Linked DNA regions of Homo sapiens. The protein of the gene in region 2 purifies or fractionates together with the protein of the main gene of each other region. This does not show direct contact. Each region holds a gene or a part of one and is shown on either strand. Other genes may lie near its edges.

The links.
Region 1: the proteins of SNCAIP (region 2) and TTC28 purify together in Homo sapiens (affinity purification with mass spectrometry; one large-scale study listed by BioGRID and IntAct). This does not show direct contact.
Region 3: the proteins of SNCAIP (region 2) and SNCB purify together in Homo sapiens (co-immunoprecipitation; one study listed by IntAct). This does not show direct contact.
Region 4: the proteins of SNCAIP (region 2) and KIAA0930 purify together in Homo sapiens (affinity purification with mass spectrometry; one large-scale study listed by BioGRID and IntAct). This does not show direct contact.
Region 5: the proteins of SNCAIP (region 2) and HERPUD1 purify together in Homo sapiens (affinity purification with western blotting; one study listed by BioGRID). This does not show direct contact.

What each region holds. Positions count from the first base shown.
Region 1 is NC_000022.11:27,980,678-27,983,840, reverse strand, and holds part of TTC28 (tetratricopeptide repeat protein 28), read left to right. Parts: coding exon 1-1,620; 3' UTR 1,621-3,163. UniProt on the Homo sapiens protein: During mitosis, may be involved in the condensation of spindle midzone microtubules, leading to the formation of midbody.
Region 2 is NC_000005.10:122,458,737-122,462,236, reverse strand, and holds part of SNCAIP (synphilin-1), read right to left. Parts: exon of another isoform or gene 2,903-3,500; intron 1-2,902. UniProt on the Homo sapiens protein: Isoform 2 inhibits the ubiquitin ligase activity of SIAH1 and inhibits proteasomal degradation of target proteins. Isoform 2 inhibits autoubiquitination and proteasomal degradation of SIAH1, and thereby increases cellular levels of SIAH.
Region 3 is NC_000005.10:176,620,535-176,626,645, reverse strand, and holds part of SNCB (beta-synuclein), read left to right. Parts: intron 1-129; coding exon 130-248; intron 249-5,342; coding exon 5,343-5,432; coding exon of another isoform or gene 5,433-5,519; exon of another isoform or gene 5,520-5,597; intron 5,598-5,802; coding exon 5,803-5,835; 3' UTR 5,836-6,111. UniProt on the Homo sapiens protein: Non-amyloid component of senile plaques found in Alzheimer disease. Could act as a regulator of SNCA aggregation process. Protects neurons from staurosporine and 6-hydroxy dopamine (6OHDA)-stimulated caspase activation in a p53/TP53-dependent manner.
Region 4 is NC_000022.11:45,202,526-45,208,636, reverse strand, and holds part of KIAA0930 (uncharacterized protein KIAA0930), read left to right. Parts: intron 1-2,724; coding exon 2,725-2,844; intron 2,845-2,929; coding exon 2,930-3,007; intron 3,008-3,318; coding exon 3,319-3,420; intron 3,421-4,651; coding exon 4,652-4,792; intron 4,793-5,452; coding exon 5,453-5,647; intron 5,648-6,111.
Region 5 is NC_000016.10:56,935,142-56,938,641, forward strand, and holds part of HERPUD1 (homocysteine-responsive endoplasmic reticulum-resident ubiquitin-like domain member 1 protein), read left to right. Parts: intron 1-93; coding exon 94-171; intron 172-259; coding exon 260-334; coding exon of another isoform or gene 335-336; exon of another isoform or gene 337-350; coding exon of another isoform or gene 351-356; intron 357-1,545; coding exon 1,546-1,676; intron 1,677-3,500. UniProt on the Homo sapiens protein: Component of the endoplasmic reticulum quality control (ERQC) system also called ER-associated degradation (ERAD) involved in ubiquitin-dependent degradation of misfolded endoplasmic reticulum proteins.

The DNA.
Region 1 (3,163 bases), on a different chromosome or scaffold from region 2:
CTACCCAAGCGCCTCAGCCTTGACAGCTCCTCCTCCCTCGAGTCTCTTGCTTCTGCTCAGTCTGTTTCCAACGCCCTGCCCTTGGGTTACCAGCAACCCCCCTTCTCTCCCACCGGTGCGGACAGCATCGCCTCAGATGCCATCTCTGTGTACAGTCTGAGCTCCATTGCCTCCTCAATGAGCTTTGTCTCCAAACCCGAGGGTGGATCAGAGGGTGGAGGCCCCGGAGGACGGCAGGACCATGACCGGTCCAAGAACGCTTACCTGCAGAGATCCACCCTGCCTAGGAGCCAGCTGCCTCCCCAGACCCGCCCTGCAGGCAACAAAGATGAAGAAGAATATGAAGGGTTTTCTATCATCAGTAACGAGCCCTTGGCGACCTACCAAGAAAACCGAAACACATGCTTCTCACCAGACCACAAACAACCCCAACCTGGGACAGCCGGAGGCATGAGAGTCTCGGTGAGCTCCAAAGGGAGCATCAGCACTCCAAATTCTCCAGTGAAAATGACTCTGATTCCCAGCCCCAACTCACCCTTCCAAAAGGTGGGAAAACTAGCAAGCTCAGATACAGGAGAATCAGACCAGTCTAGCACAGAAACGGACAGTACCGTGAAATCCCAAGAAGAAAGCAACCCAAAACTGGATCCACAAGAGTTAGCCCAGAAAATTCTGGAGGAGACACAGAGTCATCTCATTGCGGTGGAGCGTCTTCAGAGGAGCGGCGGCCAGGTGAGCAAGAGTAATAACCCTGAAGACGGCGTTCAGGCGCCCAGCAGCACTGCTGTCTTCAGAGCGTCAGAAACCAGTGCGTTCAGCAGGCCTGTTCTCTCCCATCAGAAGAGTCAGCCATCACCAGTCACTGTTAAACCAAAGCCCCCAGCCAGGAGCTCCTCCCTGCCCAAGGTGAGTTCCGGATATAGCAGCCCCACCACCTCAGAGATGTCCATCAAAGACAGCCCGAGCCAGCACAGTGGCCGGCCATCGCCCGGCTGCGACTCACAGACTTCCCAGCTGGACCAGCCTCTCTTTAAACTGAAGTACCCCAGCTCTCCTTACAGCGCTCACATTTCCAAATCACCAAGGAACATGTCCCCAAGCTCCGGCCACCAGTCTCCTGCTGGCAGTGCACCCTCCCCAGCTCTCTCCTACTCCTCAGCTGGATCTGCTCGCTCAAGTCCAGCAGACGCTCCCGACATAGACAAACTGAAAATGGCAGCCATTGATGAAAAGGTGCAGGCTGTCCATAACCTGAAGATGTTCTGGCAGAGCACACCCCAGCATTCCACAGGGCCAATGAAGATCTTCCGGGGGGCTCCTGGCACGATGACTTCCAAAAGGGATGTCCTCAGTCTGTTGAATTTGTCACCACGGCACAATAAGAAGGAGGAGGGAGTGGATAAGCTTGAACTGAAGGAGCTGTCCCTGCAGCAGCATGACGGAGCTCCACCGAAAGCCCCTCCCAACGGACACTGGCGCACCGAGACCACCTCGCTGGGCTCACTGCCGCTGCCCGCCGGCCCTCCCGCCACAGCCCCCGCGCGCCCTTTGAGGCTTCCTTCTGGAAATGGCTACAAGTTCCTGTCTCCAGGAAGATTTTTCCCTTCTTCCAAATGCTAAAGCATCTTTTATACCCACTGACTCTGAGCAGCCTGCAGATGGGGGCCTGGCGTTTGCTTCAGCCCTTCCCTGAGTGCAGTCCCCCCACAGCCACCAGCACCCTCATGATGCTGTGCTCTGCAGGCGAGGGGCACCACCACGTCCAAAGGCTGCCACACACACTGGTGGCTTTTCTGGGCCACATTCACCAAAAGCCAGGACTTCTGTGGGGCTGGTACAGGAGGCTCATGGAATTTCCTACACACTTCACCAAATGTTTGTTTACCTTTGAACTCCCTGCTTCTCATCTTTGATATGATTCTTCACCAGGATTTTGTACAAAAATGATCATGGTTCTGGGGTGGGGAGAGGAAAGGGAGCACATATTTTGCTAAGAGGTATATATGCAGTACCTTTTATACACAGAAATACAAATAGAGCTTTTTCTAAGGCTTTCGGTTGCTGGTTGGGGGTGGGATATATGAAATTTCAGTTGAATTCTACAGGAAAGTGTTATATTAGCCAAAAACAGAAAAATGGTTTTTAAAATGCCAATGATTTGTAATTAAATTGTAGCAATTTTGGTCTCATGATAGTGTAATATCTCAGCAACAATGCAATAATTCACATTGAAACAGCGCTTCCATTCTGAACTCTGCTCTGCAAATGTCTTTTGGGTCCCGCTGTCAACCAAACTTGAATTTTCTTAAAAAAAAAATTATGTAACTCTTATCCAGGCATTTTAGAACTATGCAATTGTGATTTAAAATGCAACTTTGTGCTTTTAAAACATTATTGACCTTTTTTGTATATGGATAAACAACTTGGTTTTATTATCAATAGTACTTTGCATTTATAGCTATTATTTTTAAAAGCTCAAAAAGTTTTTTAAAATGTCAAATTTTGAATAGTCATCAATAAGTAATTATCAAGTTTGGAAGGAAAGGTTGAAATGACTCCGTTTCCTTATAAGCAAAAAAAAAAAAAAAAAAAAAAAAAAAAAAAAAAAAATTTCCATGGCTAACTAGATTTAACCAGAATCCCGCCTTCCAGGCTCCTGTTCCCTTTTATTAGCTGCTGAATTTTATTCCCTTTTCCCAACTCCAGGTCCCTCAGTTGTCTTATATCTAAATCCTTTGCCAGGTCCCCACAATCCCAGCACCTGCCTCTGTGAGCTGCCCCCAGGCCCTCACCTTGGCCCTGGCCAGCCTCCTGTGCTCCTGCTGTCTGAAGGACTGGCCCCTCCCCCACTGCTGAAGCCACACGTACAGATCCTAAGCAACAGGGCCTTTTGCTGGGACGTATGCCTGGATTATGGCCAACCGGGAAGAGAGAGATGTATCTTAAAAAGTGGAGGTGGACTTCTCCTACAGCTCTGACGGTAACTTAAATTGTTGCCAGCTTGAGGCAAGACAAGGGAATCATCTAGTTAGGGGTAACCATTAATTTATTTTATAAAGAAAGGAAATGCTGAAAGTCGTATTAGTACTGAGTTTAGTTGGAGAATTTAGATAAGTAAGTATCTTTTAGGTAATTCTAAAATTAAAATCCTACCCACCTCACT
Region 2 (3,500 bases):
GTCAGGGAATCCAACTAACTGATTTGCACTACCAGATGCAGGAATTAGAAGCACCGTGTACTTCTGAAGATGATAGCAACTATGTTAAAGAATGAAGAAGCTCTCTATATACTAACACATAAAGTCCTCCAACGTGTCAGATAAAAAAAAGCAAGAAACAAAACTGTGTGTACAGTGCGACACCTTTATTGTAAAAAGGAAGATAAAGATACGCATTTGTATTTGACTGCAAAAATTTAAATAAGATTTGCACATAAAACTCTATAAAAGCCGGGCATGGTGGCTCATGCCTGTAATCCCAACATTTTGGGAGGCTGAGGCAGGTAGATCAGTTGAGGTCAGGAGTTCGAGACCAGCTTGGCCAACATGGCGAAACCCTGTCTCTACCAAAAATACAAAAATTAGCCAGGTGTGGTGGCTGTAGTCCCAGTTATGGAGGCTGAGGCATAAGAATCACTTGAACCCAGGAGGCAGAGGTTGCAGTGAGCCAAGATCACACCATTGCATTCCAGCCTGGGTGACAGAGCAAGACTCTGTCTCAAAAAGAAAAAGAAAAAAAAAAAAAAACAGCTATAAAAAAGGAACAAAGAGAAGACCAGTAAAGTGATGTTGGAAATTAATATTATTATAACAGAAATAAAAAATTCAATAGCAAGATTGAAAGGCAAGTTTCAGTAGATATATTAGAGATTCAAACTAGAAAAAGTCAAAGTATGGAAAAATAGAGAAGAATCATTAGAAAATCTGAGGATCAGTCCAGTGTGTCTAACATTAGAATAAGAGGATTTTCAAAAGAGGGAACAGAGAAATTGGAGAAGAGAAAATTTTCAAAGAAATTGTACAAAACATTTCCCAGAACTGAAGTACTGAGGGTTCCAGATTGAAAAAGCTTGCTGAGTGCCCACAGCCCAGGAATGAAAACAGACCCACATCATGGCAAAGCATCAAAAAATCAAAATATTGGAGATAAAGAAGAAATCATAAAATCTTCCAAGCCATTGGCAGAGAAGAATAGGGCTTCTCAACAGACACATTAGAAGCAAAAGAAAATGAAATGATGTGTTCAAGATTCTGAAAGAGAATAATTTCCCACCTAGAATCCTATACTGAGTCAAACACTCAATCTGGTAAATTGAAGATATTTTCAGACTGTCAGGGTCTCAAAAAAATTAGCAACTGTTTACCTTCCTTGGGTGGGAAGATATATGACTGAAGCATGAGAATAAACAAAATAGAAAGGAAAAGACAGGTTCAGGAAACAGAGTCTAAACAGGAGAGAAGCACAAGGAATTCCCAGGATGATGTGCATGAGAGACTCCAGGATGATAGCTGTGTGGCAGTGCCAGGAGGCAGCAGTGAAGATGGGGGCAGGAGGAGGGGTCTCCATGAACAGAGAGTAACTGACAAACACCTGAGCTGTCTGAGGGTGCTAAAAGATGGTTTGGTCTTCAGCAGAGTGTTTAGAAACGCATTGTAAATTAAGAAACCAAAATTATTTCCATGGCAAACATAAAATTGTATGAGAAAGAAAATATAACATAGGACAACATAATGAGTCCTTGTGATTAATATTTAAATAACCATAATGATAATTAACACTGAATACTGATTTAGCTCTTGAGAGTGATACAACTATATTCATGGGGGTGGGAGGAAGAGGAAGCAGGAATGTGTGCATGTGTGTAGGTGCGTGTGTGAGAGATAGGAAAGAGAGGGAAAGAGAGAGACAGAACAAGAGAGAACAGGTGCAGTGTTGGATTGTTGGATGCTAAAATGGAGCTAGACACATTTGGATCATTGTTAAAAATACGGATTTAGGAGCCAGACTGAGTTCAAATCCTGGCTCCACAATTTATTGCCATCATTACTATGTAATCTTGGGCAAGATATGTAATCATTCTATGTCTCAGTTTCCAATACGCAAAATTAGGATAATAATAGTATCTGCTTGGCTGGGTGGGGTGGCACATGCTGGTAGTTCTAGCTGCTCAGGAGGCTGAAGTGGGAGGATCTCTTGAGCCCAGAAGTTAGAGGATGCTGTGAGCCAAGATCACACGACTGCACTGCAGCCTAGGTGACTGAGCAAGACCCTGTTTCTTAAAAAAAAAAAAAAGTATCTGCCACATAGTGTCATTGAGAAGATTAAAATAGTACATATGTGTAAAGCACCTGAAATATTCTCTGGGATACTGTACGTGCTTTATAAGTGTTTATAAGTGCTATCATTTTGATTTTCTATAGTAGAATGCCAGTAGATAACAGGGATACTATTTGAAACTGAAAATCTGTATGAGCATGTTACTTAGAAATAGAGAATACTAGAGAAAACACCTGAAGGAAAAGTGAATGGTCGATTCAAAAGAGTGAGGCTAGGGAAGGGGGTGGGTTTGGCACAGGGCACATCCAGTCTTTATTATAATGCTAGTATTACTCTTATAAGTATCTATATCACTTTAACAATAAATTAAAATAGAACACTTAAAAGAAGGTTTTGGTCATAGTCTAAAGATAATAAAGTTTAGACTTTGATGGGCATTTCTGCTTTAATATAAGAGGTGCTGTGGTCAAAAACACTAAAATGAGCACTCTTTCTGCAGGACAAAACCCCTTATGATTAGAGCTAAGTCTGTACCAAGTAAAATATTAACTTGAGGCATTTATCTGAAAAATATCAGGATAATTCAATCCTCCCTGAACCCTTCAATTACCTAGTCCCAAATTAACAGTATTCAAAGAACGAAAGTGTTTGGGTAATTCTGGCATGAATTATTCAGATAATTTGCTACTCCTCTATTTCATTTTTGGATATGAAATCACATTCTGAGTGACCAAAATTGGAAAGAAAAAAAGCTTAAATTTAAATAACAGTTTTTCAAGTGTTCTAACTTGCTGACTCTTCTAGGCATGGATTGCAGATTTCCACAGTCCATGGTGACCAGACTGCAACTTACAGCATCCATGTAGAATGGTCCACGGCACGCACGACATTTCCGCTGATAACCAAAACAGGGAAACCTTGCTATTTTCTGTGATCTCCCTCAGAGTTTTGACTGAGAGCACATCTATAAGTCTCATCTACTAAGAAATGGATTTTGGTTCAAGGCATGAAAACTTGTATTTGAAGTGCCCAAATGGAAACTCACTGTGGGTAGGTGGACTTGTGACCAGAAGGCCAATATTGATAAAGAACACACCATTTTTCCCCGCTGTGGGAAGACAGGCTCAGTCCTTTTTTTATTCATATTTTTCTCTCTTCTTCCACTTTTCCTCTCTCTAGCTTCACCTCTCTCCAAATATCTATGAAGTCTCTATCATGCACCAGGCACCAAGCAAGACACTGGGAGTACACGTGGAGTACAAAGGTGCTATTGGGGATTACTATTTTCATGAAGCTCTTAGGCCTTTTTCACAGAGCTTGCCATGTTTTACTTGAATCCTATTTTCATTCTCTCTTGATTATGATCTCCCTGAGTGAAGGAATCAGGCCTTATCCTGGCAGA
Region 3 (6,111 bases), about 54 Mb from region 2:
CGGGGGAGACTCCCAAGGCTTCTGCGGGAATGCTCCGTGGGGAGGGCAGGCCCTGGGATACTACAAGGCAGGGCATCGGTGTTTCCCCCTGGCTCCCAAACCCCTTCCTCAACCCCCTCCCTGCTCCAGTGGCTGAAAAAACCAAGGAACAGGCCTCACATCTGGGAGGAGCTGTGTTCTCTGGGGCAGGGAACATCGCAGCAGCCACAGGACTGGTGAAGAGGGAGGAATTCCCTACTGATCTGAAGGTAAGCGATCCTTCTGACCCGCACATGCAGGCAAACACACACACACACACACACACACACACCAGGCACACAAATAAACCTGTCACCATCCCCGCCCCCCTAATCCTGCCACCAGCTTGGAACACAAGCCACTTTGCCTCCCATCCTGCAGGCCCGTGCTAGACTCAGCTCAGAATGCATCTGAATAAAGGCGTGCATGGGTGTGACGCTCCCGGTGATGGGGACCCAGACCTGGCTGTCTGCGTGTATCCTGCTTGCCAGCGTGACCCAGATGACTTCTGGCCACGTCTGCATGTGTCAATGATTGTTCATTCATTTCTTTTCATTCAACAAATATCCATGCCAGAGAGGAATTGTTGTAGAGGCTGCCGCAGTGAATAGGTTCCTACGTTCCTGCAGCTGACATTGTAGTGGGAGAAGATAGTAAAACGCAAGCCAGCAGGCAGGATGCTTTCCGCGGGGATAAGTGCTACAGAGAAAAGACAGAGAGGGCGATGGGACAGACAGGCAAGGGGTGAGAGGGCTATTTTGGCTGGGAAGACTTCTCTGAGGAAGAACCATTTGAGCTGACACCCAAGGGATGAGAGAGGCAGCCTTGAGATGTGTGGGAAGCGAATTTCAGGCTGTAGGAACAGCAAGTACCAAGGCCCTGAGGCAGGTTGGAGCAGGTGGGAGCTGTGCTGGGGTGGGTGTGATCTGTGCAGTTGTGTTTCCCCAGGGGAGCCCTGGGAACCACTCATGTGTGCATGGAGACAGATCCCCCTACTAGGACCCCCTGATAAGAGGGGGTTAAGAGTTGTGAGCTCTGAACCCACCTACCCCCAGCCTCAGCTGGGTTTGAATCCTAACTCCACTACTTCCTGGCTGTGTGACCCTGGGCAGTTCCCACCATGTCTCTGAACTTGATAGTTCACTTGTAAAATGCGAGTGAACACAATAGGAATCTCATGCAGATTGGAGATAATATAGATATTCTCAAAGCTTGAGTGTGTATCAATCACCAAGAGGCCAGGTTAAAATACAGATTTTTGGCCCCATCGTTAGAATTTCTGATTCAGTAGGTCTGAGGTGGGGCTGGAGGATTTGCATTTCTAACAAGTACCCGGGTGAGGTTGATGCCGCAGTTCCAGGGAGCATACTATGAGAACCATGGATATAAAGAGCTGGGTTTGCATACAGTGAATGCCCTGCAAGAGATTGTGGCCACATGATCACTCAAGCAGTCTGGGTCTGCCTGCAGGGGATCCTGTGACCACAGGCGTGCCTGGAAGTGGATCCCCCATGACATGTGTGTGCAGGCATTCGCTGTGAATGCTCTGTGTCTGTCCATGGACGCGTGCAGACCCTGCCTCCATGGGGATGGGGGCTCCTTCTGCAGCGTCTGGTTTGGGTGATCAGTGTACGTTCAGCATGAGTGCATCCACCAGGCTGTGGGAGACCCCACGCTGCCCTCCACTCCTGTCATTTTGCACAGTTGGTTCCTTCCACTGTTGGAAGTCAGGATCTTGACTCAGAAGTTCTAGTTCAAGCCCTGTCTCTGCATTTTACTATCTGTATGACTTCCCATTTGTTTTTTTTTGTTTTTTTTTTTTTTTGAGACGGAGTTTTGCTCTTGTTGCCCAGGCTGGAGTGCAATGGCACGATCTTGGCTCACTGCAACCTCTGCCTCCTGGATTCTAGCAATTCTCCTGCCTCAGCCTCCCAAGTTGCTGGAATTACAGGCACCCGCTACCACACCCGGCTAATTTTTTGTATTTTTAGTAGAGACGGGGTTTCACCATGTTGGCCAGGCTGGTCTCGAACTCCTGACCTCAGGTGATCCACCTGCCTCGGCCTCCCAGAGTGCTGGGATTACAGGCATGAGCCACTGCACCCGGCCATGACTTCCCATTTCTTATAATCATGTTACCAATAATCACTTCCATTCATTGATCTCTTTCATGAGCAGGCACTGTCCTAGATGTTTGACTCTAGATGAACTAACTCATTGACTCTTCCCAATGTGGCACCATAACCAGCCCGTTTTACAGATGAAGAGACTGAGGTTTAGAGAAGTGAAGTCACTTGCCCAAGACCCCATTTCCTGCCTGCCTCCCTTATAAGGTGGTCAGGAGGATAAGCTCAGGCCATGTCACTGGGGTCGCTTGGTGATGGCACAGGGCCAGTCCTAGTGCTGCGAGCTGGGGTGCAAAAGAGAGGCAGGTTCAGCCTGTCAGCCCCAGGCTGTGATGGGTGTTTGCACAGAACCATTTCTCTCTGGTCACCTTTCTCCTACTGGTGCTTGTTGACGCCTCAAGGCTACCCTCCCAAGGGAGCCCAAGATCATAGAGTTATAACACAGACAACAGCCCCTTGGGCCACCAGCGGCATGGGGGACTCATGCAGGCCCATGGTCTGCATTTCTGAGACTCTCTGCTTCGAGCATGCTTTCCATCCATCATCACGGAATCCTCACCAGCCTCGTTTCCCATGCAAGGCTGCTGAGATTAGAAGCAAAATGACTTGCCTGATGCCAGGTAGCTACCAGGTGGCCAGGCTGGGGTTGTTTGTTTGTTTTCTGAGATGGGGTCCTGCTATGTTGCCCAGGCTGATCTGGAACTCCTGGGCTCAAGCAATCCTCCTGCCTCAGCCCTCCAAGTATCTGGGATTACAGGCTATGGGTATTTTTTTAAGTGAACTTTTTATTGAAGTACAATGTACATGTGGAAAACTGGCAGCTCCATGAAATGTTCACAAAGGGAACTCCCCTTGTAACCAGTAGCCAGCTCGAGACAGAACACTACCCCCCAGGACCCCACCTTGTGACCCCTTCCAGTTCCTATCCCCAGGGCCAGGACTAGGGGGAGACAAAAGAGGTGTCTGGGGCACTCACTCATGGAGTCTCACTTGCATGGCCAGGAGACGGAGGCCAGGCCTCCCTAACATCTACACTCCAGGAGCCTCACCCACCTCCCCTCAGTCCTGGCCCTGCCTATCGCCCTCCAAGGGGAACTGCTTTCTGACTTTTTTTTTAGACGGAGTCTCGCCCTGTTGCCCAGGCTGGAGTGCAGTGCCACAATCTCAGCTCACTGAAACCTTCACCTCCTGGGTTCAAGCAATGCTCTTGCCTCAGCCTCCTGAGTAACTGAGACTACAGGCGTGCACCACCATGCCCAGCTAATTTTTGTATATTTAGTAGAGATGGGTTTCACCATGTTGGCCAGGCTAGTCTCAAACTCCTGACCTCAAGTGATCTGCCCACCTTGACCTCCCAAAATGCTGGGAGTGGTAACGGGCGTGAGCCACTATGCCTGGCCTTGCTTCCTGGCTTCTATCAGCACAACACTAGTTGGGTGTTTTTTGACTTCTTGTAAATGTTATCATGAGGCTGGGCACAGTGGCTCATGCCTGTAATCCCAGGCATGAGGCCGAGGTGGGCAGATCACCTGAGGTCAGGAGTTTGAGAACAGCCTGACCAACATGGCGAAACCCCATCTCTACTAAAAATACAAAAATTAGCCAGATGCAGTGGCACATGCCTGTAATCCCAGCTACTTGGGAAGCTGAGGCAGGAGAATCGCTGGAACCCAGGAGGCTGAGGTTGCGGTGAGCCGAGATCACACCACTGCGCACCAGCCTGGGCCACAGAGTGAGACTGTCTCAAAAAAAAAAAAAAAAAAAAAAAAGTCATCATGAAGGCCATGCTCTTCTGTTCTGTATCTGGCTTCCTCCATTCATCAGGAAGCTTGTGAGACTCAGCCCTGCTCTTGTATGCATTGTTGTTCTTCATTCTTGTTATGTAGTATTCCATTGTGTCGTTAGGTCACAAGGCACACATCCATTCTACTGATGTTGGACATTTGGGTTGTTTCCAAACAATGTGCTCAAGCTGGCTTGTTTTGTTTTGTTTTGTTTTGTTTTGTTTTGTTGAGATGGAGTCTCACTCTGTTACCTAGGCTGGAGTGCAGTGGCGTGATCTTGGCTCACTGCAAACTCCGCCTCCCGGGTTCAAGCGATTCTCCTGCCTCAGCCTCCCAAGTAGCTGGGACTAGAGGCACGCACCACAGTGCCCAGCTATCAAGCTGGCATTTTTAGCACTACATTCCATCCCTGGGTTCTGGTCATAGCTGGGTGACTTGGGGGCAAACTAACATTTCCCCACCTCCTGGGCCTTGGCATACGCATCTGTGCAGTGGGGAAATGAGCCAGGTCAGGAGCTGGAAACTCATGTGCCCACAGGGCCCACTTAGACAGGTAATGTGAAGGAGCTGACGCTGCCTGGATGGAGCTGGGACACCCAGGGTGCAGACGTGGTCAGGGCAGGCTTTCCCCAGCACCAATGCTCCGGGATCCCAGGCGTGTGCCAGCCCCACATGAGGCACTGCACAGGCTGTGCATGGATCCTAAGCTATCGCGTGTGCTTGTGTGTGCAGCCAGCTCAGTCCCATGTTTGTTCACATACATGTGGTCACCTGCAGGTGGCTGGCCATGTGTCTGGCAGCCCGCCCACATGCATGCCCGCTGGTCTGCGCCTGTCTGGGCAGCAGACGCAGCGGGTGGGGGGGAGAGTCTTAGCTCACACATCCAAGCAACACCACGAGCTGTGGCTTCCAGCTTATCTTAAAATAGCAACAGCTGAAGAAACGAGGCCACACAGGGCCCGGGGGAGGGATGAGTGGAAGGTGGCGGGGGAATGGCTCAGAGCCCCTGCCCAGCCCTGTCCCTGAGCCTCCAGCTCCCTTCAGCCCAGGGGAGCCTGAGGGTTATCTCTGGGGTCCCGATGCCCAGCACAGAGCCTGACACAAAGGATGAGGCATAAGCTGGTGACTGAGTATCCAAATGGTGGAAGTGTGGAGGCTGCCAGGCATTGGGGGAGCGGCGTGGAGAGCCAGCTCCCACTCCATGCTGCCACTTCAACTGTGATTCGGGGGAATTTCCCCCTTCACCTCCATCCCACTTCCAAGGCACTCCAAATAAATAACTGAATTAGAAATTATCCTTGCTCTGCCAACCCACCCTAGCCTTCCCCACTCCAACCCACCCAAAGCTTACCACTGTGGGAATTTGGGGGGCATCCTGGCTGTCCTCACGAGTCCTGACCTTTTCTGCCCACAGCCAGAGGAAGTGGCCCAGGAAGCTGCTGAAGAACCACTGATTGAGCCCCTGATGGAGCCAGAAGGGGAGAGTTATGAGGACCCACCCCAGGTGAGGGGGCAGCAGGGCTGGGCGGGACTTTGGGAATCCAGGATGATTGCTGCCGTCCCTAGCTGGGGTGGGACATCCCTGGCATGAGATGGTTGGGCCAGGGAGCTTGACATCCCTCTTCTAGAACCCAGGCCCCAGGAGGTGGGAGCAGGGAGGAGAGGGCAGATAGGGTCTAGCGCTGGGCCCCAGGCACACCTGCCCAAGAATTCTCTGTTGTCCCCAACTTCCAGGCTCCTCCCCTGCCCAGGAAAAGGGGAATGTGCTATTCCTCCTTCAGGGAGAGGGTTCTTGGGCCGGGGCTTGGCCACTTGGTCTCAAACTCCTCCTCCTTTTTGCTCTTCTCTACTCCACCCCCATCCCGGTGATGCAGGAGGAATATCAGGAGTATGAGCCAGAGGCGTAGGGGCCCAGGAGAGCCCCCACCAGCAGCACAATTCTGTCCCTGTCCCTGCCCCGCCCCCCAGAGCCAGGGCTGTCCTTAGACTCCTTCTCCCCAATCACGAGATCTTCCTTCCGCTCTGAGGCAACCCCCTCGGAGCCTGTGTTAGTGTCTGTCCATCTGTCTGTCCTACCCGCCCGCGTCCAACCCCGGGGCATGGACAGGGCCAGGGTTGCGGTCGCGGCTGGGAGCCTCGCCCCTCCAGTGTTGCCTCCTCCCATCCAGCGTCTGCGCGGATGT
Region 4 (6,111 bases), on a different chromosome or scaffold from region 2:
ACCGAGGCCCCTTCACCCCACCCCAGGGCTCAACCTCCCCCTGGGCAGCTGCTGCTCTGTCTCCTCAAACTTCCCGGGCGGGTTCTGCCTGTTCTCACAGCTCCTGCATGTGGAGTCGGTGGGTTCTGCCTGTTCTTACAGCTCGTGCGTGTGGAGTCGGTGGTTCTGCCTGTTCTCACAGCTCCTGCGTGTGGAGTTGGGTTCTGCCTGTTCTCACAGCTCGTGTGTGTGGAGTTGGCGGGTTCTACCTGTTCTTACAGCTCGTGCATGTGGAGTCGGTGGTTCTGCCTGTTCTCACAGCTCATGTGTGTGGAGTCGGTGGTTCTGCCTGTTCTCACAGCTCATACATTGGAATCGGGCAGTATATGTTGTTTCAGGCTTCTTTCTCCGCATGTCATGTTTGTGAGTCATGCCTGTTGACACAGGTGGTTGTAATCTGGTCTCACTGCTGTGTAATGCCTGCAGAGTGTACCATGGCGGCCTGGCCACCCTCCTGTCAGTGGGTACCGGGCAGCTCCCAGTGTCCTCTTGGGCCTGGCTTTGGTGCGCACACGGACACCTTTCTGATGGGGAACCTGCTCTTTCGCCTGCCTGTGCTGTGGTGCTGCCCCGAACAGCCGTGTGATCGTGCCCCCGAGCCTTTCATTCACTGAGTCCACAGCGCTTTGCTGAGCAAAAGCAAATGAACAGGTCAATGAAGCGAGACCAGGAGGAACAGCAGAGTCTTGTGAACCCCAGGACTCTCAGCTCAGGGGCTCGGGGTGACTGCAGAACCATACAGGCGGTGGAAGTGGGGCCCCCCGACCCGGGGACGTCTGTTTCTCGCTCCTAGGCAAGGTTGGCCTCTTGCACCTCTTTCCATAGATCCCAGCTCTGCCTTTGGGGGGTGCAGGCCTGTGCACCTGCAAGAGGGCCCAGCAGTGCCCAGCCCCTCGGAGCCCGAGTCAGTGAGAGCACCCAGGACCGGGACCAGAGGCCCCCAGTCAGCACAGCTGCTTCAAAATTGAAAGCCAGGCTGGGCGCGGTGGCTCACGCCTGTAATCCCTGCACTTTGGGAGGCCGAGGTGGGTAGATCACTTGAGGTCAGGAGTTTGAGATCAGCTTGGCCAACATGGTGAAACCCCGTCTCTATTAAAAAAAAAAAAAAAAAATTACGTGTGGTGGCAGACGCCTATAATCCCAGGTACTTGGGAGGCTGGGGCAGGAGAATCACGTGAACCCAGGAGGTAGAGGTTGCAGTGAGCCAAGATTGTGCCACTGTACTCCAGCCCGGGTGACAAAGCAAGACTTCATCTCAAAAAAATAAAAAAATAAGAAATAAATTGAGGCCGGGTGCAGTGGCTCATGCCTGTAATCCCTGCACTTTGGGAGGCCGAGGTGGGTAGATCACTTGAGGTCAGGAGTTCGAGATCAGCCTGGCCAACATGGTGAAACCCCCTCTCTATTAAAAATACAGAAAAAAATTAGCCAGGTGTGGTGGCAGACACCTGTAATCCCAGCTACTTGGGAGGCTGGGGCAGGAGAATCACATGAACCCAGGAGGTAGAGGTTGCAGTGAGCCAAGATTGTGCCACTGTACTCCAGCCCGGGTGACAGAGCGAGACTCCGTCTCAAAACAATAAATAAGAAATAAATTGAGGCCGGGCACGGTGGCCCATGCTTGTAATCCCAGCACTTTAGGAGGCCGAGGTGGGCAGATCACCTGAGGTCAGGAGTTCGAGACCAGCCTGGCCAACATGGTGAAATCCTGTCTCTACCAAAAATACAAAAAGTAGACAGGTGTGGTGGCACGTGCCTGTAATCCCAGCTACTCAGGAGGCTGAGGCAGGAGAATCATTAGAATCCAGGAGGCGGAGACTGCAGTGAGCCAAGATGTGTTGCACTGTAGCCTGGGTGACGGATGGAGTGAGATTCTGTCTCAAAAAAAAAAAAAAATTGGAAGCCAGTCTCCCAGGAGAGGTGTAGACATGCTTTGGTTTCTCTCTGATATGTATTTATTATTGATCTTCAGTAAATTTGACTCTGATCTGTTAACATGGGGCTAATGATACCTGCATTGCAGGGTTGCTTTAAAAGGATTAATAATTTGTAAAATGTGTAGCCCAGACCCCGCCGTCCACTAAGAGCTCAGTAGGTGTCACTATTATCATTGATGCCACTTAGCAAATATGAGCTCTTTAAATCATTATGACAACTTTGAGGGGAAGATGCCCTTAGTCCATTGTACAGATGAAGAAACTGAGGCTTAGTGAGGAGAATGGATGGCCCCTGGGTCCCATCTCCCGTCGCTAGAGAACTGGGGAGCAAGAATTGGAGTTCTGGCCGGGCATGGTGGCTCACACCTGTAATCCCAGTACTTTGGGAGGTCGAGGCAGGAGGATCACCTGAGCCCAGGAGTTCAAGACCAGCCTGGACAACATGGCGAAACGCCACATCTACAAAAAGTTTTAAAAATTAGCCGGGTGTGGTAGCACGTGCCTGTGGTCCCTGTTGCTTGGGAGGCTGAAGTGAGAGGATCATTTGAGCCCAGGAGGTTGAGGCTACAGTGAGCTGTCATTGCACCACTGCTCTCTAGCCTGGGCAGCGGTGTGAGACCCTGTCTCAAAAAATAGTAAGAAAAAAGAATTGGAGTCCTTGTCCATCGTAATGCCTGCATAGTAGTCAGGGAAGAAGAAGAGCACCACAGTGGGCCCTGGGCACTCACTTCTGCTCTGGGCCTCGCAGGCAGCTGAGCCTGAGGTGGAGGTGGAGGTGTACCGGCGGGACTCCAAGAAGCTGCCAGGCCTGGGAGACCCTGACATCGACTGGGAGGAGAGCGTCTGCCTGAATCTCATCCTGCAGAAGGTATGGGGTGGGATGGGTGGGGCTGCGGATTGGCCCTGTGGGATGGCTGACCCCTCCCTGCACGCTGACCCGTGCTCTCTTCCAGCTGGACTACATGGTGACCTGTGCGGTGTGCACACGTGCTGACGGCGGGGACATTCACATCCATAAGAAGAAATCTCAGGTGAGCCCTGGCACGAGAGCCCCCAGCCTCCTAACTGCCAGTTCAGGCTGGGCGTGGCAGAGAGAGACAAGTCCTCCTGCTTGCTTCTCTGCCCTGGAGGTGAGGGGTCTGACTCCAGAAATCTGCTCAGCTCCTGGGATCCCGTATCCCATTCGAGGAGCACAGAACCAGCTTATCCCCCACATCTCCTGGTAGGTCTCTGGCTTTGGACTGGCTCTGGGCCGGGTGGCCTCCCTATACTGGCTTGGACTGGCTCTGGGCCTGTGTGCCGGGTGGGGCCTCACTTGTCCTCCAAATCTGCTTTCTTCCAGCAAGTGTTCGCGTCCCCCAGTAAACACCCCATGGACAGCAAGGGGGAGGAGTCCAAGATCAGCTACCCCAACATCTTCTTCATGATTGACAGCTTCGAGGAGGTGAGCTCTGCACAGGGCCTCTCTCCTTAGCTTCCCCTTCTCGTGAGATGGGTGTTAGGCGCTTCTCCCCGCGGCCTTAGCCTTGCAGAAAGGCATGGGTGGCTTGGAGCCGGGAAGAGTCCGGCTGAGGCAGATGTGGCTCTCTCTCTTCCCAGTGTTTGCTTGTGGGCAGGTGAATTTCCCCGGCGCAGCCTCCGTTTCCTCCTCTGTAAAATCAGTGTCATGATCATCTGTCCTACTTACTGTCAGGGCTGAAGACTAAAAGGCTCCTGAGTGGGAGGACGCCTCATAAACTCTTGCAAGAAGCACTGCCCGGGCGGGAGGAGCCATTATTAATGCTAGTAAATGATAAAGAAGCGCCTCCACGCCTGCACTGACTTGGAATCCTAGGATGTCAAAGAGGGATGGGGTTTCCGGAGTTATCTGGGCCAAGCCTTTGTTTTAAGGTTTGGGAAACGGGCTTGGGCAGAAGGAGACTCACCGAGAAACACAGGGCACTGGGAGGGCGGGGAGGGAGCCGGTCGCAGCTCACTCCCTGCTCTGCCCATTTGTGTCTCTCCTCTGTTGAGGCCCTGGTCGGGGTCCTTGTGCGCATCCAAGGTGCTCAGGGCCCTGAGGACTTAGGAGGAAGGCGTGGGCGTCTGCAGGAAAATCGCAGGCTCAGGGAGGTCATGTCCCCTCCCCAGGCACACGTAGCTCCTAGAGGGCAGAGCTGAGATTTGCGTCTAAGTCTTTGTGGCCTCGGAGCTCACAGTCTGTGCACCAGGTCCTGGGAGCAATGACTCGGGAAGGTGGCAGGATGGGGCCTGTGGCACCTTAGTCTGGTGTTGTCACCCCAGGTGGGCAGTCACCCTGCCACCACACTGAGCCTTTGGCCACACAGGAGCCTCAAAGATGTGGCAGGCAGGGCTGGGCACCCCTAGGCGGTGTGGAGGGGCCCAGACGGTGGCTGACGGTCCTGGTGAACCGTGATGAGGGTGTGCGTCTTCTGCCAGTCCCAGAGTCTCCGTAAGCGTCCCTGTCCTCCCCTGCTGCTCAGCCCCTGCCCCAGTGTGAGGCTGTTCTTGTCCTGTGGGGCTCGGAGGGCATGGGGCCACAGGAGTGTGTGACAGCCGGTTGTCCCCTGCAAAATGGGGTTTTCTGAGCAGCCCTCCCTGCCAGTTGGGCCAGGCTGTGGTGTGGGCGGTGGGAGCTGATGGTCACGTCCCTGTCTCTTTGTGTCCTGGCCCAGGTGTTCAGCGACATGACCGTAGGGGAAGGAGAGATGGTCTGTGTGGAGCTGGTGGCTAGTGACAAAACCAACACGTTCCAGGGGGTCATCTTTCAGGGCTCCATCCGCTACGAGGCGCTCAAGAAGGTGTATGACAACCGGGTGAGTGCGGGGCGGCCTCACGGGTGTTCTTCTGGGCCCGGGGACGGCGGCTCCACAGCCCACCGTGGTCCATACCATGGGGCCCCCCAGCCTGCTTGTGCATGGTAGCGGCCGCCAGGGGTACCTGCAGCCCCTCCGGGCTCCTTCTAGGCGCTCCCTGGTCCTCTTAACGTCATTCTTCATGGTCGGCCTCAGCCCATGCGGGCCACTTGCCTTCATCTGAAATGTGAGCGGGAACTTCCTCCTCAGTCTCTAGTTCCCTGGGAAGTGATGGCTGATGGTGTCGCTGTCACCTCCTCACTGTCACTTGCTTCCTGCGACTGGCCCTGGGAGTGCTCCGAGTCGCCCCCAACTAAGCAAGCAGATGTGGGCAGGCCCCTCTCCCCCAGCGGGCACCATCCGCAGCCAGCCTTGCTGCCAGCCTGGGGCCCTGTCCTCAGCCTGGTCCGTGGTTCATGGGGCGGTGGGAGGGGCACCAGGAGGGGCACCAGGCAGAGATGTGGGTCCATTCCAGCTGCCCCGCCTGCCAGCTCAGACGCTCCCTCCCGGGCAGCCCCCGCTCCTTGAGGGATGGTCGCCCTGGCTGTTCATGTCCTGGGGAGGGGCCCCATGGAGCCATCGCCACCTCCCTGACTCAGGCTGCCCCGCGCCGGCCCCCAGGTGAGCGTGGCCGCCCGCATGGCACAGAAGATGTCGTTTGGCTTCTACAAGTACAGCAACATGGAGTTTGTGCGCATGAAGGGCCCCCAGGGCAAGGGCCACGCCGAGATGGCGGTCAGCCGAGTGTCTACAGGTGACACATCCCCCTGTGGGACTGAAGAGGACTCCAGCCCAGCTTCGCCCATGCACGAGCGGGTAAGGGCTGCACAGCTGGGGGCGGGGGCTCCCATCCGTCAAGTTCACTTTCCACCGTCTCCCCCGTGCTCACGGCCCCCTGGGGACATAGGTGTTGTCATCCCCAACCACCAGTGCGCAGGCCGAGGTGCCGAGCGTGCGGAGGCCCGGACCACCCAGCCCTTCTCTTTGCCTAGCGGTTTGTAGGAGGCACTGCCGCAGGGGAGGCGTTCCTGCCTTGCAGACCTGGAGGGCTGTGCCTGGCCAAGGTCACACCGCAGGCTGGTGCTGGGCCAGAGCTCTTTCTGCCTCCCTGAGATGCCACAAAGCCAGGCTGAGTCCACAGAGCCAGTGGGCAGAAGAGACTGGCTGGGGACCCAGGCCCGGCCCTGGCGCCTGCCTGGGTGGACCTGCTGGGTGAGCGTGGGCACGTGGCCGGCCTTCCCCGGTGAGTCAGATGGGGATGATGGTGACTGAGGGTCAGC
Region 5 (3,500 bases), on a different chromosome or scaffold from region 2:
ATTCAAATTACTTGTATAAAACAGTTTATTCTGTGTTTAGGAACTTGTAGGGGTGAAATGCTGACCTGTGTTACTCTTTCTTTCCATGATCAGCGTCCAGAGGACCAGAGGTTAATTTATTCTGGGAAGCTGTTGTTGGATCACCAATGTCTCAGGGACTTGCTTCCAAAGGTACATCACTTACACATTAACTTCTGAATGTTTTTAAGCACTCACCAGGTTAGGTTCAGGTCCTTAAGTACCTTCGTATTACTTTTAGCAGGAAAAACGGCATGTTTTGCATCTGGTGTGCAATGTGAAGAGTCCTTCAAAAATGCCAGAAATCAACGCCAAGGTGTGTCTGCCTCTTCATGATGGTAACAATTTGTATCATTCAGACTTTCAGGGGAGTAATAAAAGAAGTTGGATAAAACGTTTATTGAGAGACTGTATGGTGTTATTACCAAGTAATATTTTGTTTCTTTCCTAGGAATTAGAAACTGTATTATCAACACAAAGTGATGAGTTAATAGTAGCAGATTGTTCCGTTAGTGCTGTAGTAGAAAGGTGGAGTTACATATTGCACTATCTTATGGGATATGATTTGATCTATGGTTACTGTGTATCTAGATTACTGAACTAACACTAATCGGGTTTTTATTGAATTTAGCACATAGCAAGTTTCTTCAAAGGAGTCACTAATTTTTATAAAGAGTACAAAAGTGAATATATTTCCTTTGGAAATTTTCATTGTGATTAGTTGGATAGGAAAAGATCAGAGTTTTTATCAAGTGATCTTTAAAGAATTTTTTTTTTTTAAAAATGGTCTCGCTGTGTGGCCCAGGCTTTTCTCAAACTCCTGAGGGCAAGCGATCCTCCCACCTCAGCCTCCTGAGTAGCTGGGACTACAGGCATGTGCCACTAGACCTGGCTCTAAAGACATATATGACACACGAAACCATTTATTTTTCATTTCACAATGTTTATTCACATATATGGTATTAGTATTCTAATGTAGTGATGCACTCTAAATTTGCATTATATTTCCTAGAACATCTGAACAGAGCATAGGAAATTCCCTATTTTGCCATTATCAGTTCTAACAAAAATCTTAAAAGCACTTTATCATTTCATTTCCCTGCACTGTAATTTTTTTAAATGATCAAAAACAGTATCATACCAAGGCTTACTTATATTGGAATACTATTTTAGAAAGTTGTGGGCTGGGTTGTATTTATAAATCTTGTTGGTCAGATGTCTGCAATGAGTAAATTTAGCACCATTATCAGGAAGCTTTCTCACCAATGACAACTTCATTGGAAGATTTTAATGAAAGTGTAGCATACTCTAGGGAAAAAATATGAATATTTTAGCATCTATGTATTGAAAATTATGTTGAATAAATGTCAGACTATTTTTTACATAACGTTGCTTCTGTTTAATTTTGTCACGTTCAGAGGTGGGGGGTAGGAGATGTAAGCCCTTGACAGCAAAATAATTCCTTTTGCTTGATTTCAGACAGTTGCATCAGCTCCTTTGTTCTGTGTTCATGTTACACTTATTTAGGTGGCTGAATCCACAGAGGAGCCTGCTGGTTCTAATCGGGGACAGTATCCTGAGGATTCCTCAAGTGATGGTTTAAGGCAAAGGGAAGTTCTTCGGAACCTTTCTTCCCCTGGATGGGAAAACATCTCAAGGTGAGTGTTATAATAAAGATCTTGGCTTATGCAACATGAATGTTCCTCGTTTGCATCAATTTAAGAATAAGGTATGTTTACACGTATATAATCAGAACTTTTAAACATACAGAATTTTGCTTTATAAATAGCTTCGCTTTAAAGATCTCTTATATATTTAACTTTTCTTAATACACAGCCTTTTAGTACACACAAATTTAAAAAGTAGGTAATGCATATATTGAAAAAAAAAAGAAAATGTAGGCGTTTTATCCTTCCATTGTGCTGACCGCTTGGTTGCCGTCATGATAGGAAATTAGTGCTGCTGCAGGAGAAAACAGCTGTCGTAAGCATTGTGCAGCTGCTTTGCTGAGTGGCTTTGTGCTTTATTGTAACAATGGGTGACAACAAGGGAGAGACTGTTTAAGAAGTGTCCTTCCAAAGACTTGGGGGTACTAGGAAAATTGGCCAATTTCTTATAACTATTAAAGCTTTTCTTTAGAGCAAAAGTCAGAACTAAATGCTCTGTTATTTGGATTTTTATAGCTCTTGGAATACATTGTTTTTGGGGAAAAATTCATTAACTGCAAGTTGCAATTCTGTAACTCTCCAATTCTCCGTCCCCCTTTTTCTAGTACTTTTTATACACAATATTTTATAAAGCCAGGTGTTTTAGGAATGAGTTTTTCTTCCTTTTCCCCCTTAATGGAACTTTCAAATATACACAACAGTGGGGACTGGATAATTAATCCCCACACCATCACCCAGGCCTAATAAATAACAATCAGAGTTTTACCATAGCTCATCTATTACCCTTTCCCTTTTTTTTAAAAAAAGAGTATTTAAAAGTAATTCCCAGGCATCATGTTATTTCATCCCTATATTCTTCAGTATATAACTATGAAAACCTTTTAGTTATCTTGTATATCTAGAATGCCATTATCAGATCTAACAGAAATCTTAAAAGCACTTTATCATTTTATTTCCATGCACTGTAATTTTCTTAAATGATCAAAAACAGCATCATACCAAAGCTTACTTGTATTGGAATACTATTTTAGAAATACTCTGTGTATGGAATTTAGTTAAAAGATTGTCAGCATATAAATTGGATAATTATTGGATAGAAAATTATTGGTTAGAAAAACTTAAAACTACTTCCCTTATTCTGATTCAACTATTCTTAACTTGAGAATTGAGGCTCATATTTGACTCTCTGAATCTCACCATATTTAAACTTGATTTCCTTTAACAAATATTTATTGAACAGCCAGTACATACAACTTTGCTTAAGGATATGAGTTGACCTGCAGGAATGACCACATAACCAATTTCTGATCTTTGGGCAATTCTATTATGGTTTCAATTTTGTGATGTGCTACTGAAGAAATTGACTGTGTAAGAAGCACAAAGCCAAAGATGACTCGCATACACCTGCCCTGTGAAGTTGAGGGCTGTGTGGCCTGATTAAAGAAGCATGCATTTGGCCGGGCGCGGTGGCTCACACCTGTAATCCCAGCACTTTGGGAGGCCAAGGTGGGCGGATCACGAGGTCAGGAGATTGAGACCATCCTGGCTAACACGGTGAAACCCCGTCTGTACTAAAAGTACAAAAAATTAGCCAGGTGTGGTGGCGTGTGCCCGTAGTCCCAGCTACTGGGGAGGCTGAGGCAGGAGAATGGTGTGAATCCGGGAGGTGGAGCTTGCAGTGAGCCGAGATTGCGCCATTGCACTCCAGGCTGGGCAACAGAGCGAGACTCCATCTCAAAAAAAAAAAAAAAGAAGCATGCATTTGACATCAGACCAGCTCTGAAATCCAGCCCTGCTACTTACTAGCTCAGTGAC